3 separate regions of the Homo sapiens genome follow, and all the other regions are reported to be linked to region 3. Evidence: microRNA targets listed by miRTarBase, many of them from high-throughput screens and not tested one by one. Region 3 holds a microRNA gene; each other region holds the end of a gene's coding sequence.

The links. The annotated mature microRNA hsa-miR-3622a-3p reads UCACCUGACCUCCCAUGCCUGU and lies in region 3 at 1,673-1,694, opposite strand. An mRNA with a match to its seed (bases 2 to 7 or 8) in the 3' UTR can be bound and repressed. Matches are read on the target gene's strand: a 7mer-m8 pairs with bases 2 to 8, a 7mer-A1 pairs with bases 2 to 7 and ends in A, and an 8mer does both.
Region 1: miRTarBase lists ABHD13 as a target of hsa-miR-3622a-3p. Seed matches in the 3' UTR shown: 7mer-A1 at 1,124-1,130.
Region 2: miRTarBase lists RCC2 as a target of hsa-miR-3622a-3p. Seed matches in the 3' UTR shown: 8mer at 4,028-4,035.

Annotation. Positions count from the first base shown.
Region 1 is chr13:108,229,973-108,235,046 of GRCh38, reverse strand. ABHD13 (abhydrolase domain containing 13) reads right to left here. Exons shown (of 2, transcript NM_032859.3): 2 at 804-5,074. The coding sequence ends at 4,815. Among named protein-coding and RNA genes, the nearest start is that of ABHD13, 14 kb to the right of the region's middle.
Region 2 is chr1:17,404,352-17,409,425 of GRCh38, forward strand. RCC2 (regulator of chromosome condensation 2) reads right to left here. Exons shown (of 13, transcript NM_018715.4): 13 at 2,409-4,843. The coding sequence ends at 4,739. It also overlaps RCC2-AS1. Among named protein-coding and RNA genes, the nearest start is that of RCC2, 33 kb to the right of the region's middle.
Region 3 is chr8:27,698,344-27,703,419 of GRCh38, reverse strand. It overlaps MIR3622A (microRNA 3622a), which reads right to left and starts at 1,743; the gene lies at 1,661-1,743. It overlaps MIR3622B (microRNA 3622b), which reads left to right and starts at 1,653; the gene lies at 1,653-1,747. It overlaps LOC124901920 (a long non-coding RNA gene), which reads right to left and starts at 2,450. Exons shown (of 2, transcript XR_007060869.1): 1 at 1-2,450. It also overlaps a transcript of SCARA3 not described here. RefSeq lists a silencer at 141-286.

The DNA.
Region 1 (5,074 bases), not on the chromosome of region 3:
GTTATAGTCTCTAGCCAGATCTAATTGTTCATGCTTTTTAGTATGTAACAGAATGTAATGAAAGAGTTGGAGAGTGAAATGGGAATGTGAAAAAAACTTATCTTTCAAATTTAAGAAATAGTAATCTAAAAATGACTTCACCCTGGGATTCAAGTTGGCTATCTTTCAGGGTAGTACATGAGAGACCCTAGCTCCCACTAGATCTACCCATACAAAGATGGGCTCCAATACGTGAATTCTTCATCTTCCCTTTCAGGGGACCATTTAAGATTCATCTTACACTTCCTATGATCCAACTCCTTCTGACATATTCAAGCATGCACATTTCTTGTTAGGAAAAGCAAGGTATAGGCCCCTAAAGGCTGAGTTAGTATCAGGTCATTTTTTGATCATTAAAAACCATTAACTAAAATACAAACAAGAGGGGGGGAAAAGCAGAATTTTTAAAAAAAAGCATTTTATGAAATCTGAAGGCAACATAATTATGAAGTTAAAATGTATTCATTCCTAGATTCAATTAACTAAAGAAATGCATTAGGGATTAGTCATTCACCAGTGGTTTATGTATAGTTTTAATATTAGCCTAAATTAAATATATGTAAGAGGATAATACTCTCCGGGGAAGGAAATATAAATCTAACTTCTATTTTTTATCCACACCATTACTAGAATAAAATTCATTAATTTCAGTGCAAATTCAGGAATTTTACGTAACCATTGAAGAAATTTTAATGTCCTACCATAAAATTCTAGATTAACAATTTTTAAAAAAAGACTGAATACAAACTATCTGAAGACATTAATCAAATTTTTAATGTACCAATTTATTGCATATGTCAGTACAGAAAAATAGAAAGTATATTTTAAAAGAAATTTATTGTAAAAAACAAATGTAAATGTTTGCTTGCCATGGTTAGCACACAATGTACTATGACATTCAAATTTGAGTTATAAAATTTTATCACTTCAAATAAAATATGGCAAATAACAAAAATATGATTTACATTATGAAATGGGATTAACTTATTTTATACTGAACATACTTGAATATGTTAAAAACAACTTGAATTTTCCATATACGCTGTACTGACAGAAATAATTATAAATTATGTTAAACACACACTCACCTGTTACATATGTATATACGGCACTTTTTGTAAAAAAGTGTCTCATACATGGTCCTATTTTTAAACTACATTTTAAGATACAAAATATAAATGGAGGTATATTTGCGCCATTTGGCAAAAATGTATAGACTAGTATTAAGATGACTGCATTTATCTTGCCATACAAATGAATATATTATTTCCAATTTGCTAAAACTATGTGTGTATATATATATATAGTATTAAGAATAAACAGAAGTACATTTCATTTTCTACCCTATCAATTTAAAAAATAAATGTCTGTGCTCTGTCATTTCCATCTTTACCTGAGTAATATGAAAATACCTAAATTTAAGTGGATAACCCAAAAGGGTTATGACTAATTTTTCCTCTCACAGTTTTTAAAAATACATATAATTATCAAACATAATAGGAAAATGGGAAAGAAGAATGAGTGGAAGAGTTCAGTATCTCAATCATGACTTAATTAAAAAGTGACTTCTGTGACATCCTTTTTACAAGTTTACCTTACCTATCCCTATCCTCAAGGAGAAAAGGGTCTCCTTAATATAAACTGCTCTTAAGCTATCTGAGCTTGAAAGATAATTTATAAAAAATGAAATATGGCCTTCACTCTTTAATTTCTCCACACCTATTCCCACAAAGCCAAACTTACAAACATAAGAAATTAATATATAAGCATCAGATGGTATGAATTCTCAACAGGTATTACAGCGTAATTACTCCAGTGACATATTACCAAAGCTGTAATCTATGTAAATATCAAGTGTCTACAGGTAATCATAAATTTAAGCAGCCCTGTAGCAAAATTCAGAACACCATTTTTATGAAAATATCCATTTTAACAGTCAAAAACCTAATTGCAAAAACAGGGTTGTTGCAATGGCAAGTGCTCCAGTCACTTTTTGTTAGAAATGCTTTGCATTCAAATGTTTTGCATGATTTCCTTTCACCAATCTCATTAATTCATTATTTTCTACATCTAAATTTAAAAACTGTGTCACACTTTCCTTTCTAGTTGTTTCTATCCTACTAGTATTCTATTACCTGTCACAAATTATTTCTTCTCTTATTTTGCAGAATTCTTTTTAGGGTCCTTTTTATATTTCTTTTTCACCAGTTTTTCCCCCCAATCATTCCCTTTAAAATAATGGATGTGAGATTTTATTCTAAATGAGCTGTATCTTGCCATATTTAAGATCACTCTAGGATCCCCAAATTTATAGTAACTTAATAACTTAAAGTTCTTTTGTAAACTCCTATAGCTGCTCTTGTATAAATAAGTCAGAAGTTAATACACAAGATAGATACATATACTTCCATTCCCACTAAGCAATGGGTCCACAGTAAAGGAGTGACTCCTGAAGAAGTCTCATTTTACTAAAACCAATTGCTTTGGCTACAAAACTAGAAATATTTTCAAAAATGATGCCATGGGCTTCATGGACCCCTGATACTAAGTTTGTTTTCCACCTCTTACCCATCTAAGGAAACAGTCTCAAATACAGATGCTAGTGGTGGTATAGCCCTAGGCACAGCCTCTGCCCTTAGCTGCAGAAAGAAAGGCTCCTTAACCCTAAGAGAATGAAGGTAGGGAACGCCAAACAAGTACTCTACAATTTTTGAAGTCCTGGCTTAAAATTTTAAAAGATAGTTTATAAACCTGGAGTATCAAAAAGAAAAAGCAGCATAAAAGCAAAATACTGATGAAGAAATAGCTTTTATACCTCATGAGCATATTTAGAACTAAAGCTGATAAATTTCTCCCTAGTGTAATGACTGATTACATAAAAACATAAGGTTTTTTTTTGTAAACTTTAAAGAATGATACAAATATAAGGTATGCCATGTAAGCTCGTGTCTAAATATACATTTTGTTGTATTTTCTTTTTAATACATTAATATTTAGAATAGTCATTCTACATAGCAAGGACTGACAAGAATAATCTTTAATTGTGGTGAATTTATACATACAAAATATGCCTTCCATGATATGCATTACCAACTTGTTTTAAAAAGCAAGACTTTTTACAATTAGTAATTTATAGAAAAACATTCTTAGAAATCATACTTGCTATAATTTATTTTTTCTAAATACCGGCATAAAGTGAATAAGAATGCTATTTGGCAAAAGTATTTCTAGCCCTATCTCCATTGAAAGTTTTAAATTAAGGTCAAGATTATTGACCCATTACTTCTCTGTTCTAGTTGCTTGCAGAAAGCCACTAAATATAGCTAAAATATTCAAAATATTATATGTTAAAGCTGACATAATATTACACAAAGCTCAATTACATCTAATTTTTGAGGACTGCATGAAACAACTTGGCACAATTATGACTCATAGCGTGTATTTTTATTAAGTAAATCCTGCAAGTTTCAAGGGGCTTTTTTCTAAGTAAGATTTTCTTACTTTTCTATACATCTAAATCCTACTTCCCACCTATAGCCATTTAACTGCTAAATGTGGTAATAGGTTTTGTGTCAAAAAGCTCCAGAATTCCTTCATTCCCACACTCCTACATGTAAAACTTTTAAAATCAATAAATAAGACTTCCTAAAACTGTCTTTTGATTGTAGGAGTTCTATTTCACAGCAACTGGAACATTAAAACCAAGAACATTGTTTTGTTGTTGTTGTTGTTGGATTTTGTAACTTTTATTTTCAAGAAGTCCAATAAATGATATCTTGCCTTTGATAGGTTAGATATAACTAGGTACTGGGATTTAAAATCAAAGGTGAGAATTTTTATAAAGTAGTATGTACAATCCTGCAATGATAAAAGACTTCCTAATTTAATTCTAAGTAGTGCTAATCTTCACTATGACTGCTATTAGTGGTTCAGCTGAAGACTTACAAAATCGATAGAAGCTAAAATTCTCTTTGCCACCAAAGTTACAAATGTTAAAAAGTTCAAATATGCACATCAAAGCTGCAGTAAAATTCTAAATTTCTATTTCTACATGCCATGATCCAGACTGTACCTAACAAAAACACGGTACATTTGTATTGGAAAACAGGGTCCCATTTATTTGTAAGAAAAAGCTGGATCTCAGCATTCACCAGAGCAAAATTCAATGGCAACCTGCACATAAGTCTCAATTTCACTTCTTGCCAAAAACAAAATAGAGTTTACATAAAAATAGATATAACCCAGATAACCATATACATCAGTATATGACCAGTGCTATTTACATGTAAAATGTTGCATTGCATAATTCAAGGAATAAAATACCATCATGCATTTCATTTAACTTTTAAGGTGAAAAATGCAGTTACAGAACTAAGTTTGCTTACCATGATTGTCCCAATATTTACTTAAGAAACAATACCCAAAGGTTTCTTGTTTACATATCTCTTTCCACATCTAGCTATTCATCTGTGTAACAGATTACACCACTTTAGCAACAAGAAACTTTTGAACAATATCTATTATACTGACATATTAAACTGAAGATATGAATACATAATCACACTGAAAGTTTTGATGAAAATGTATGAAAGAATCCCAAGAATTAGTTTTTCCAATGTAAAAAACTATTTGGAATATCGTAAAGGAGCAGTGAAGTCCTTTCAAAGTTTAATGTCACTCTTCAGACAGGTACAGACATAACACACTTCTAAAAGGAACATTCTTTATCATTCTGCACAAATTAAAATACAATGCAATAATCAAAAAGGGAAACATTATATAATTGTTACATTAGATGAAGTTTTTGCCATTTCTTCAGGAGAATGGCTCTTTACGACTTCTTTGATGAACTGTTCAAGTGCAGTGAAATAGCCTTGGCACTGCCATGTGTCATTGTGAGTCCCATCTGGAAAAATGGCTAATCTCTTAGTCCGAGATGGGGAGAGTTCATAAAGTTGTTTCATCATTACTGGTGGAATTAATTGATCTGAGAGTCCAGAGATGAAAAGTGAAGGCATTCTACACTGAGAGATTT
Region 2 (5,074 bases), not on the chromosome of region 3:
TCAATGTGGGGCTGGGGCAGGTGTTCGGGGCAAAGCAGGGCTGGGTAGGAACCGGCAAGTCCCCTTCCCCATTCGCCATCCTTCCAGCCCTTTTCACTCTTCCCTGGGAGCTTAAGGAGCCGCTTAGTGTGGAGGACATTGGCCAGAAAGGCTGCTGGCTTGACGGGGCAGGACAATAGCAGGAGGCAGCAGCTTTGCAGGTGAGAAAACCCCAGAGCCAAAGGCCGGGCACGGTGGCTCATGCCTGTAATCCTAGCACTTCGGGAGGCTGAGGTAGTGGGAGGAATCACCTGAGTTCAAGAGTTCAAGACCAGTCTGGTCAACATGGTGAAACCTCATCTCTACTAAAAATACAAAGAAATTAGCCGGGTGTGGTGGCCTGTGCCTGTAATCTTAGCTATTCAGGAGGCTGAGGCAGGAGAATTACTTGAACCTGGGAGGAGGAGGTTGCGGGGAGCCAAGATTGTGACACTGCACTCCAGCCTGGGGGACATTAAAAAAAAAAAACCTCCAGAGCCGCCCGTGGGGAGCCTGCCTTCTCTGCCCCCCCGACTTCAGGAGGCTTCTCCCATCCCCCAGCCACAGGCCTGGCAGGCCCCGGCTGCTCTGTATTGGCCACCTACACTGCCCCTGGAAGGGCAGGTGAAGGTCTCCTGGATGTTCTCGAAGCTCTCAAGACAGCCCCTCCAGGGTGGCCACAGGTCACATGGGCTCCCTGTCCTCAGCCAGGGGCAGGCTGGGGGAGCAGGGGAGGCCATCTTTGTTACTAGGATCTTTGTGGTTCCAGGCACAGGTCTTCCTACCCGCCCCACTGTGTCCCTCAGCCAAAGCCATTTTCTCTCTGCACCCCACTTCCCTCTATAACACAGGAATAAAAAACAAACAGCCTTCCCTTCAAGACTGCCTGTGTGGCCGGGCGTGGTGGCTCACGCCTGTAATCCTAGCACTTTGGGAGGCTGAAGCGGGCAGATCACTTGAGGTCAGTTTGAGACCAGCCTGGCCAACATGGTGAAACCCCGTCTCTACTAAAAATACAAAAATTAGCAGGGCGTGGTGGCACTTGCCTGTAATCCCAGCTACTCAGGAGGCCGAGGCAGAATTGCTTGAACCCAGGAGGCAGAGGTTGCAGTAAGCAGAGATCACACCACTGCACTCCAGCCTGGGCGACAGAGCAAAGCTCCATCTCAAAAATACAAGACCGAGCGCGGTGGCTCATGCCTGTAATCCCAGCACTTTGGGAGGCGGCCAAGGTGGGAGGATCACGAGGTCAGGAGTTCGGGACCAGCCTGGACAACATGGTGAAACCCCATCTCTACTAAAAATACAAAAATTAGCCAGGCATGTGGTGGACACCTGTAATCCCAGCTACTCAGGAGGCTGAGGCAGGAGAATCGCTTGAACCCAGGAGGCAGAGGTTGCAGTGAGCTGCGATTATGCCACTGCACTCCAGCCTGGGTGAAAGAAACTCAGTCTCCAAAAAGACTGTCGGAGTGGACTGCAGGAGTCAGGGGCGAGACACACGACACTCAATTTGCAGCATGTGCCCAATACACAACAGCCAGTGTGTCAGCAGGGACGCTGCCCCCAGCAGTGGCTTCCCTGCCCACGGGGGCTCTTCCAGGGCAGGAGCATCTGATGGGAAGCTCCAAGCTGCCAAGGGGGGAGATGGGGAAACACCGTGTTTTACATTTGGACTGTCCTGCAACAGTGCACATGCTCCTTCTGCAGCTAACAGGCCATGGGAGACCGTTTCCTCCTCTCCCAAACTGGGCCAATGCCTGCCAGGAGGGGCTGGTCTGGACACTATTCAGCCAGTCAACACAAGGTGGCCTGCACTCGAGGTTCCAGGGATCCCAGGCATCTTTGCGGCTGCAGGGAGCCGGTGTCCTGTGCAAGGGTCTGGTCTAGGACTCTGCCCGGTATAGACTCAGCAGCAGCCTAGAAGGGAGAGTGTCCGTGATCTCTGAACCTACGACCAGCCTCCTGGTGCCCTCTGGTGGGCAGTTGGCCACAATGCCTGCACAGAGCAGCACTGGCCTGAAGCCACAGCCGGGGCCTGACCAGAGCCCCCTGCTGAAGTCTGGGGAGTGGGTGCACATGCAGTCACCGCGCTGGATGCCTCCCATGACTTATTTTTTTCCTCTCAAAGCCCCAGTGAAAATGCAAAGAACTCCACTTCTGAATTGGACAACTGAGGTACTGACTCTGTCCCACTCCCCTAGCATTTCATGGGGCAGAGTTGGGGGATCCACTCACTTCAACCAGTGCAGTTTAAACCTGGAAGCTCCCCTGGGGCCACATGTCTCCTGGCACCACCTTCTGTGGGTGCCAGGGCTTAGGAGGTACACATATAAGGAGTTAAGAAAAACAGAGCTCCGTTCCAACCGAAAAAGAAATGCAAAATCCAAGACAGTAGACAATGTTGTTGTTTATTTAAAATGTTTACTCCAAGAAATATATATATAAAAAAAATAATAAGACAATTACAGCACTAAACCAGGCACCTTCGACCAAATCACAACCTCCTCTTTGATTCCCCTTCACGCTAAGCCTCTTTCAAATTCTTTTTCCTGAGCTGGAAGACCAGTCAGATGCCCGCAGGGTCAGCGCCAAGCACATTCCCAACCGGGCAACTGTGTACCTTTCTCTAGGAGTGCACGACACCCTTCCCCCACAACTCCTTGTTTTAAAGGATTTAACCCATTAGGAAGCCCATTTTTCAATCTAAGCCAGAAGGAGCTGCGGGACAAGGCAGTCTTCACTTTGAAGGTCCCTTTCCTGCTCCAGTCCCTGGGCTAGGGTTCTAGAAGAGGCTGGCTGCCACGTTTACATGAGGCCACCGAAGATCTAAGTCCAGCTAAGCCCAGGGAGGCTCCTGCAAAGGCTGGGACCTCGGGTGCTGCGTCCTCAACCCTCTCGGTGACCACGGCTCAAAGGAGAGACCTCAAGGGTGCCAGGAGCACAGGTGCCTGGGCTGCATTCCAGGAAAGAGACCTGTCCAGGGAAACGGATCAGGCTGTCGCATGGAAGCTTACGTCAGAGATGGTGGTTTTGGGGTGATTTGGACAAATTAGGTTAGTTTAGCAAAGCTCTGAAGTAGCAGAAGCTTCTCCCCTGGACTACTGATTGAACACAGAACAAGAGATGCGCGTGGCGTCAGACTAAGTCTTAGAGAGATGCAGGCCAGTCTCCTCCCACAGGGCCTTGGGACTGGCAGGACAGACACTGCTACATGCCCTCCAAGGGCAGGAGTCACGGTAAGGAGCGACTGGGGTGGAAAATAGGGAAAAAAGCAACAACAACTACATCATTTTTGGCATTTTAACATGGAGACAGTGACAAGTGGTAACAAAGCAAAAGAAAAAAAAAACTTGAAGAGACCAATATTTAACTTTCCCATCCACCCAAGTCTCACACTTAAGTTCTAGTCCCATCTCCCCCATAAGCACCACTGAACTAAATATCTATTTTAAAGCACCCAAACCAGTCCAGACCCTCTGGAAACCAAGAGCCCCAGCCACAGCTGTCGCCTCTCTTGGGTCCAGGCGAGAGGAGGGTTCCGGGAAAGGCACCTCATAACTCACTCAGCGCAGCACACACGGCGGCGAGCTCGGGCACTTGACGAGGACGCAGGTGGCAGTCACAGCATCCGTGCTGACACGCAAGGAAGGGGACTCTTCGGTAATCCCAACTATTTGGTACCAGAGCCAAGCAAACGTGACTAAAGGGAGCTGGGTCAGCAGAACGGTACCCCGAGTCTCAGCAACAGGACGGCCCGCGCGAGGCAGGATCCAGGCGGGGGGGAGAAAAAGAGACCAAAGCACAAGGCGATCGAGGCTGGCACAGAAAGGGCTGATCCTTCTTGCAAGGACTGGAGAATGCACTTGACTGCTGGCTGGTCCATCTCTTAATTGGCGAGTGCGCGTGACAAGGCTCAGCCCTGGCTCCACAGGGAGCCACCAAGCTGACTCAACTGATACAAATGTTCCCACCTCTGCCCCACCCCCAAGTCCCCATGGTTCCACAATCACCTGATTTTCATTTGGACCTCTTTAACAGCTAAAGTAGATATAAATGGCTAAACACAGATCCCCAATCCCCCACCAGGGGGGACACGGCCGATTCTATAATGTCGCAGCCAGAAGGCTGTGGGCGTACAGGCAGCCAAGGGGAGAAACAGAACCGACACCGGCCTAGGCCCATCTGCAAGAAAAAGCGGAGAAGGAGTGACCCGGATGCTTCCGAAGCACGCGAGCGTGATTTTGGATGGAGGCGGGCCGGTGACTGCCTAGCTGCTGCCGGTTCCTGTAAGGGACATTTTTTCTGAGTAAATGGCGATTCCTCTTCCATGTGGCATCTGCTTGGATCACGATGCTAATTGTAACTGGAAAGGGGTGTTTTGGGGAGTGTATTCAGGAGAGGAAGAAAGAAAAAACTTAAAAAAAAAAAAAACCTAGATTGCTCAAAGTTTCTGCCTCTTTTGTAGGAATGGTAAATCAACTATGAGCAAGTATTTTAATTCAACATTAAGGGAAAAAAAAGGACTTTGGAAAGCATACAGAAAAAAAGGTAGTTAACGTTGGATCATGTGTAAAACGGAACCTCAGGGAGTCTAAACAAAAATGCACCTTCGGTCAACTTTTGCTTTTTTAAATTCCTCGTTTGACTTCCCGTCCCAGTGCACATGGAAATGACAGCTGCCGCGAGAGGTGTGGAGTCGGAGGAGTCTCCGGGAGCATCAGAGGGTTCGGGGGTTGTATTCTGGCAGTTTCTTGATCTTCTCTTTCTCAGTCTCACTTTCATCTCTTGCTATCACCAAGGAGTGTGAGTAGCCCATGGCGACCTGGGGGGACAAATCAGCGTTGGGTGTGCCTGAGGCGCCTGGACTAATCAATGCGTTGAAGAGACTCTGGAAACTGGGCTGCTAAAGCGGGTCAGCATGGAGAAAAACAGAGTGCCCTTGAAAACTGCAAAAAGCCCCTCTGCCCAAGACAGCTAGTTTCCATGTGACTGCCACCAACGCTCTGCCAATCAGAGCCTTCCAGGCTGCCCTGGGAGACCCAGCTGGAAGGAA
Region 3 (5,076 bases):
CTCACCCTGACTTCTCAGCTTTCACTTTTTTCTGCTGATGGGTTGGAAATTGCTACTCTCCTGTTTTCTCTCCACCTGCACTAACAAACCCCAAGTGCTGCCCCCAGCACGAATCCCTGGTTCCCGGGTCCTCTGCCAGGTGCAGGTGCTGCGGCTTCATGTTCAAAGGATTCTGGGCACTGCGCTTTCTCCCTTGATGTGCCCAGCCAGGCTGCGGGGATGGGAGGCTCCTCTCCTGTGCGGCTCAGGCTGTTTTTCTCCCCAGAGCCTTGTGGCCAAGTTTCCGTGGCCCTGTGCTCTGGACCCTGGGCCAGGGCTGTGGTGTGGGCAGCCTTGAGGCCCTGGGTTCCATGCCAGTTCTCGACAGGAAGGCCTTTCATGTGGGTGCCAGCTGGCCTCTGGGCCCAGCTTCGGGCCTGGCAGGGCCTGAGGAGGGAGAGCTGCGAGTGTGAAAAACACTTTCTGTTTGGGAGCTGGTTGGTGGGAAGGAAAGACAAGAGGGAGGGGGACAGGCAGGTCAAAGAGCTTACCCAGGTTTAGAGGAGCGAGGCCAAGGTGCCCCTGTAGAAATGAGGCGATTCGGCCTTTCCTCCCCAAAAAGAGGTCTTGGCAGAGATACAAGGAAGCAAAGTCTGTTGGGTGGGGATGGAAAACACTTTCCCAAGCCTGCCTTCACTCCCTCCCTCCCCCGGGCTCACTGAGCCTAATCAGGTCAAGCACGCAGCTCCCTGCCAGACACTGTGGCATTGTTTAAAGCCGCTGCCTCCCCAGTACCCTCTCCCCACAGAACTGAGTTCTGACAAAGGAGGCCCTGAGGGACAGGGCTGAGAGGACAGAGACCCAAGGTCCAGGGACGCGTCACTCCCCTATGGCTCGCTCTCCTTCCCACTGGTTATTGTTTTTCTACCCTGGACCCCAGGGAGAAAAGGAGCCAGGCCCTGGCAAACCTGAAGGCTGTTTGTGTTGACATAAAGGCACTTTCTGAGCAAACAGCACTGAAAGGTCAGCAGTAACCCCAGGCAGTGCCAGGACTGGGCAGCGGGTTTGGGAGGTGTGGAGAGAAAGGAAACTGTGGGCCACTTGGGGTCGGATGACTTCACCAGAAGAAGAAGAAAAGCCAGCCAGGCTGCAGGGAGGGGGCTTCCTGGAGATGGAGCCCTGGAAGACCTTGGCTACCCCATAAAACTTAAATAGGACTTGAAGTCAGTTGTTTATCTGCTTTCCAGAACACCAATGACATGGGAGAGAGGCTGGCGCCCTAGGCAGGACCCAAGCGAGCCTGGTGTCTGGGGCAGGATCTGCCACTACGCTTGGCTTTCTCACTGTAGGACTCAGTTTGCATGGGAAACCAAAGGAGAATTTCAAGTGTCCTACTCACACATATTCTAGCCTTTCAGGAAACATTTACTGAGCATACATCACCCACCTGATAGGGGGCTAAGCCTGGGAATGCTTTCAGAGATGAGTAGCACAAGGTCTCAGATAAGGTGACCCATTTTCCCCGTTTGCCTGGGCCTCCCAGTTTTAGCACTGAACATCCCTTAGCTCAGGAAGCCCAGGAAACCCTTTGGTTTGGGGCATACTTGGTTGGTTGGTCACCCTAGCATCAGTCATCAAGCAGCTCACGATCTGCAAACAATGGTAGACATACGAGTGATATAATAGAGGGTGCACAGGCATGGGAGGTCAGGTGAGCTCAGCTCCCTGCCTCACCTGAGCTCCCGTGCCTGTGCACCCTCTATTGGCTATGATCACACCACTGCACTCCAGCCTGGGTGACAAAACAAGACCTTGCCACTAAAAAAAAGAGAAAGAAAGAAAAGAAAGAAAGAGAGAAAGAGAAAGAAAGAGAGGAAGGAAGGAAGGAAAGAAAAAGCTACTTTTTGAATGAAAGAATGAAAAAGCATCTCTCAGCTAGGAAATGTCTTGCCATGATGACACCTGTGTTCAATGGGGAGCTACGAGAACATTTTAAAAAAATCTACTGTACTGAGGCATAATTTACATATAATACAATGCATACACTTCAATGTAGACTTTGATGAATTTTAACAAATATATACACTCAGTAACTGTTAAATCAATCAAAATATTTATAGCACCCCAGAAACTTCCCTATTTCTCTTTTGTAGTTAATCCCATCCTAACCATCCCATCCCAGGTAACCACTTACCTGATTTCTGTAACTATAGATTCATTTTAGTTTTTCTAGAACATCATCTCAATGGAATAATACAGTCTGTACTCTTTTGAGTGACTTCCTCTACTCAATGTGCTTTTGAGATTTATCCAAGTTGGTTTGCATATCACTAGTTTTTTTGTTTTTTTTTTACTGGTGAGTATGGATTTATCATAATTTTTCCATGCATTTGCCTATTGATGAACATTTGACTTGTTTCCAGTTTTTTGCTATTCTGGACAATGCTGTTGTGAATAGTATGTACAAATTTTGGTATAGAAAAACATTTTCATTTCTCTTGGGTAAAAACCCAGAAGTGAAATTGCTGGATCATAGGTTAAGTATGTGTTCAGATTTATAGGAAATCACCTAACTTTTCCAAAAGGGTTGTACCACTTCACAGTTTCACCATTAATGCATGAGAGTTCTCGTTGCTCCACATCCTCACAACATTTTGTATTGTTGGTTTTTGAAATTTTAGCCATTCTAGTGGTATCTCAGAGTGGTTTCATTTGCATTTCCCTGATGATTAATGAAGCTGGAACACTTTTTCATGTGCTTACATGGTCATTCATATACTTTTCTTGCAAAATGTCTGTTCATGTCTTTCATCTTTTTTTTTTTTTTTATTTTTGAGGTAGAGTTTTGCTCTGTTGCTTAGGCTGGAGTGCAGTGGTGTGATCTCAGCTCACTGCAACTTCCACCTCCTGGGTTCAAGTGATTTTCCTGCCTCACCCTTCCAAGTAGCTGGGACTACAGGAGCCCACCACCATGCCCAGCTAATTTTTGTATTTTTAGTAGAGACAGGGTTTCACCATGTTGGCCAGGCTGTTCTTGAACTCCTGGCCTCCAGTGATTTGCCCATCTCGGCCTCCCAAAGTGCTGGGACTTTCATCCATTTTTAATTTGAGCTGCATGTCTTTTTCTTATTGAGATGTATGAGTTCTTTATGTATCCTGAAAGCAAGTCCTTTGTCTCATATATGTATTGCAAATATTTTCTCTTATTCTGGGATTTTTTTTCTTTTCATGTTCTTAAAGGGATATTTTAAAGAATAGAGGGTTTTAATTTTGATATAATCCAATTTATCAAAATTTTTCTCTTATGGTTTGTGACTTTCATGACCATATTTCTTAAAGTCACAAAAATTATCTTATGTATTTTTTAAGAAGTTTTATAGATTTAGTTTTTACATTTAGGTTTGTGGTCCATATCAGATGAATTTTTGTGTATTATATGAGGTAATATCAAAGTTTGTTTTTTGCATATAAAAATCATTTGTTGAAAAGACTTTGAAATCATTGGTGTCTTTGGGGAAAATCAATTGATATATATGTGTAAATCTATTTCTGGATCTCAATGTGGTTCAATTGATCTATATGTCTGTCCTTACACCATTATCTCATTGTCTTAATTACTGCTGCTTTAGAGTAAGTCTTTTTTTTTCTTTCTGAAATTTTAAATTTTTATTTTTTGTAGAGTTGGGGTCTCACTATATTGTCTAGGCTGGTCTGGAACTTTTGGGATCAAGTGATCCTCCTGCCTGAGCCTCCCAAAGTGCTGGGATTGCAGGTGTGAGCCTCCATGACAGACCTAGAGAACGTCTGGATATTATGTAGTATAGGCCCTCCAACTGAACTCTTCTTCAAAATTCTGTGGATTTTCTAGATCCTTTGCACTTTTATATACATTTTTAGAATCAGTTTTGTCAGTGTCTTTAAAAACAAGGCTGCCGAGGCCTGGCACAGTGGCTTACGCCTGTAATCCCAACAACTCATGAAGCTGAGGTGGGAGGGTCACTTGAGCCCAGGAGGTCAAGGCTGCAGTGGACTATGATCATGCCACTGCACTCCAGCCTGGGTGACAGAGCAAGACTCTGTCATTTACAAAAAAGAAAGAAAGAAAAATAAGGCTGCTGGGATTTTGATTGGAAGTGTGTAGGATATGTAAAAGAATATAGGAAAATGAACGTCTTTTTTTTTTTTTAATTTTTATTTGAGACGGAGTCTTGCTCTGTCACCCAGGCTGGAGTGCAGTGGCGCAATCTCGGCTCACTGCAAGCTCCGCCTCCTGGGTTCCCACTATTCTTCTGCCTCAGCCTCCCAAGTAGCTGGGACTACAGGCGCCCGCCACCATGCCCGGCTAATTTTTTGTATTTTTAGTAGAGACAGGGTTTCACCATGTTAGCCAGGATGGTCTCGATCTCCTGACCTCATGATCCACCTGCCTCGGCCTCCCAGAGTGCTGAGATTACAGGCGTGAGCCACTGTGCCCAGCCATGAACGTCTTATTAATGTGAGTTTTCTTATACATGAACATGAGATATATATATAGATAGACAGATAGATAGATACCACTATATATATATATCTCCATTTATAAAGATATTTAAAAATTTCAGCAATATTCTGTACTTTTTACTATAAAGATCATGCCCATCCTTTACTAAATTCATTCCTATATATTTTATATTTTTATGCTGTTGCTAAATGATTACTTAATTTTAATTTTCTTATTTTTTGCTCCTAGTATATAGAGATGCAATGGGTTTTTGTATATTGGCCTTCTATATTATGATATTGGTAAATCACTTTTTAATAATTGCCATTTTCTTGTAAATTCCCTAGGATTTTCTATACAAACAACTATGCTGTCTGTGAATAAATACAGCTTTATATTTTTCCTTCCAATATGTATTTCTTTGTTTGTCTTATTTCGTTGGGGAGGACCTCTAGTCAAATAGAATAAAAGTGTTGGGAGATGAGATCCTTGCCTTATTTCTGGTTTATAAGGGAAAACATTTAGACTTCCACCATTAAATTTGCAATTAGCTATCCCTGGTGCTCTTGTTGTCATATCAACTTGACACATTATAAATCCAATCTCCAGTCTTATCT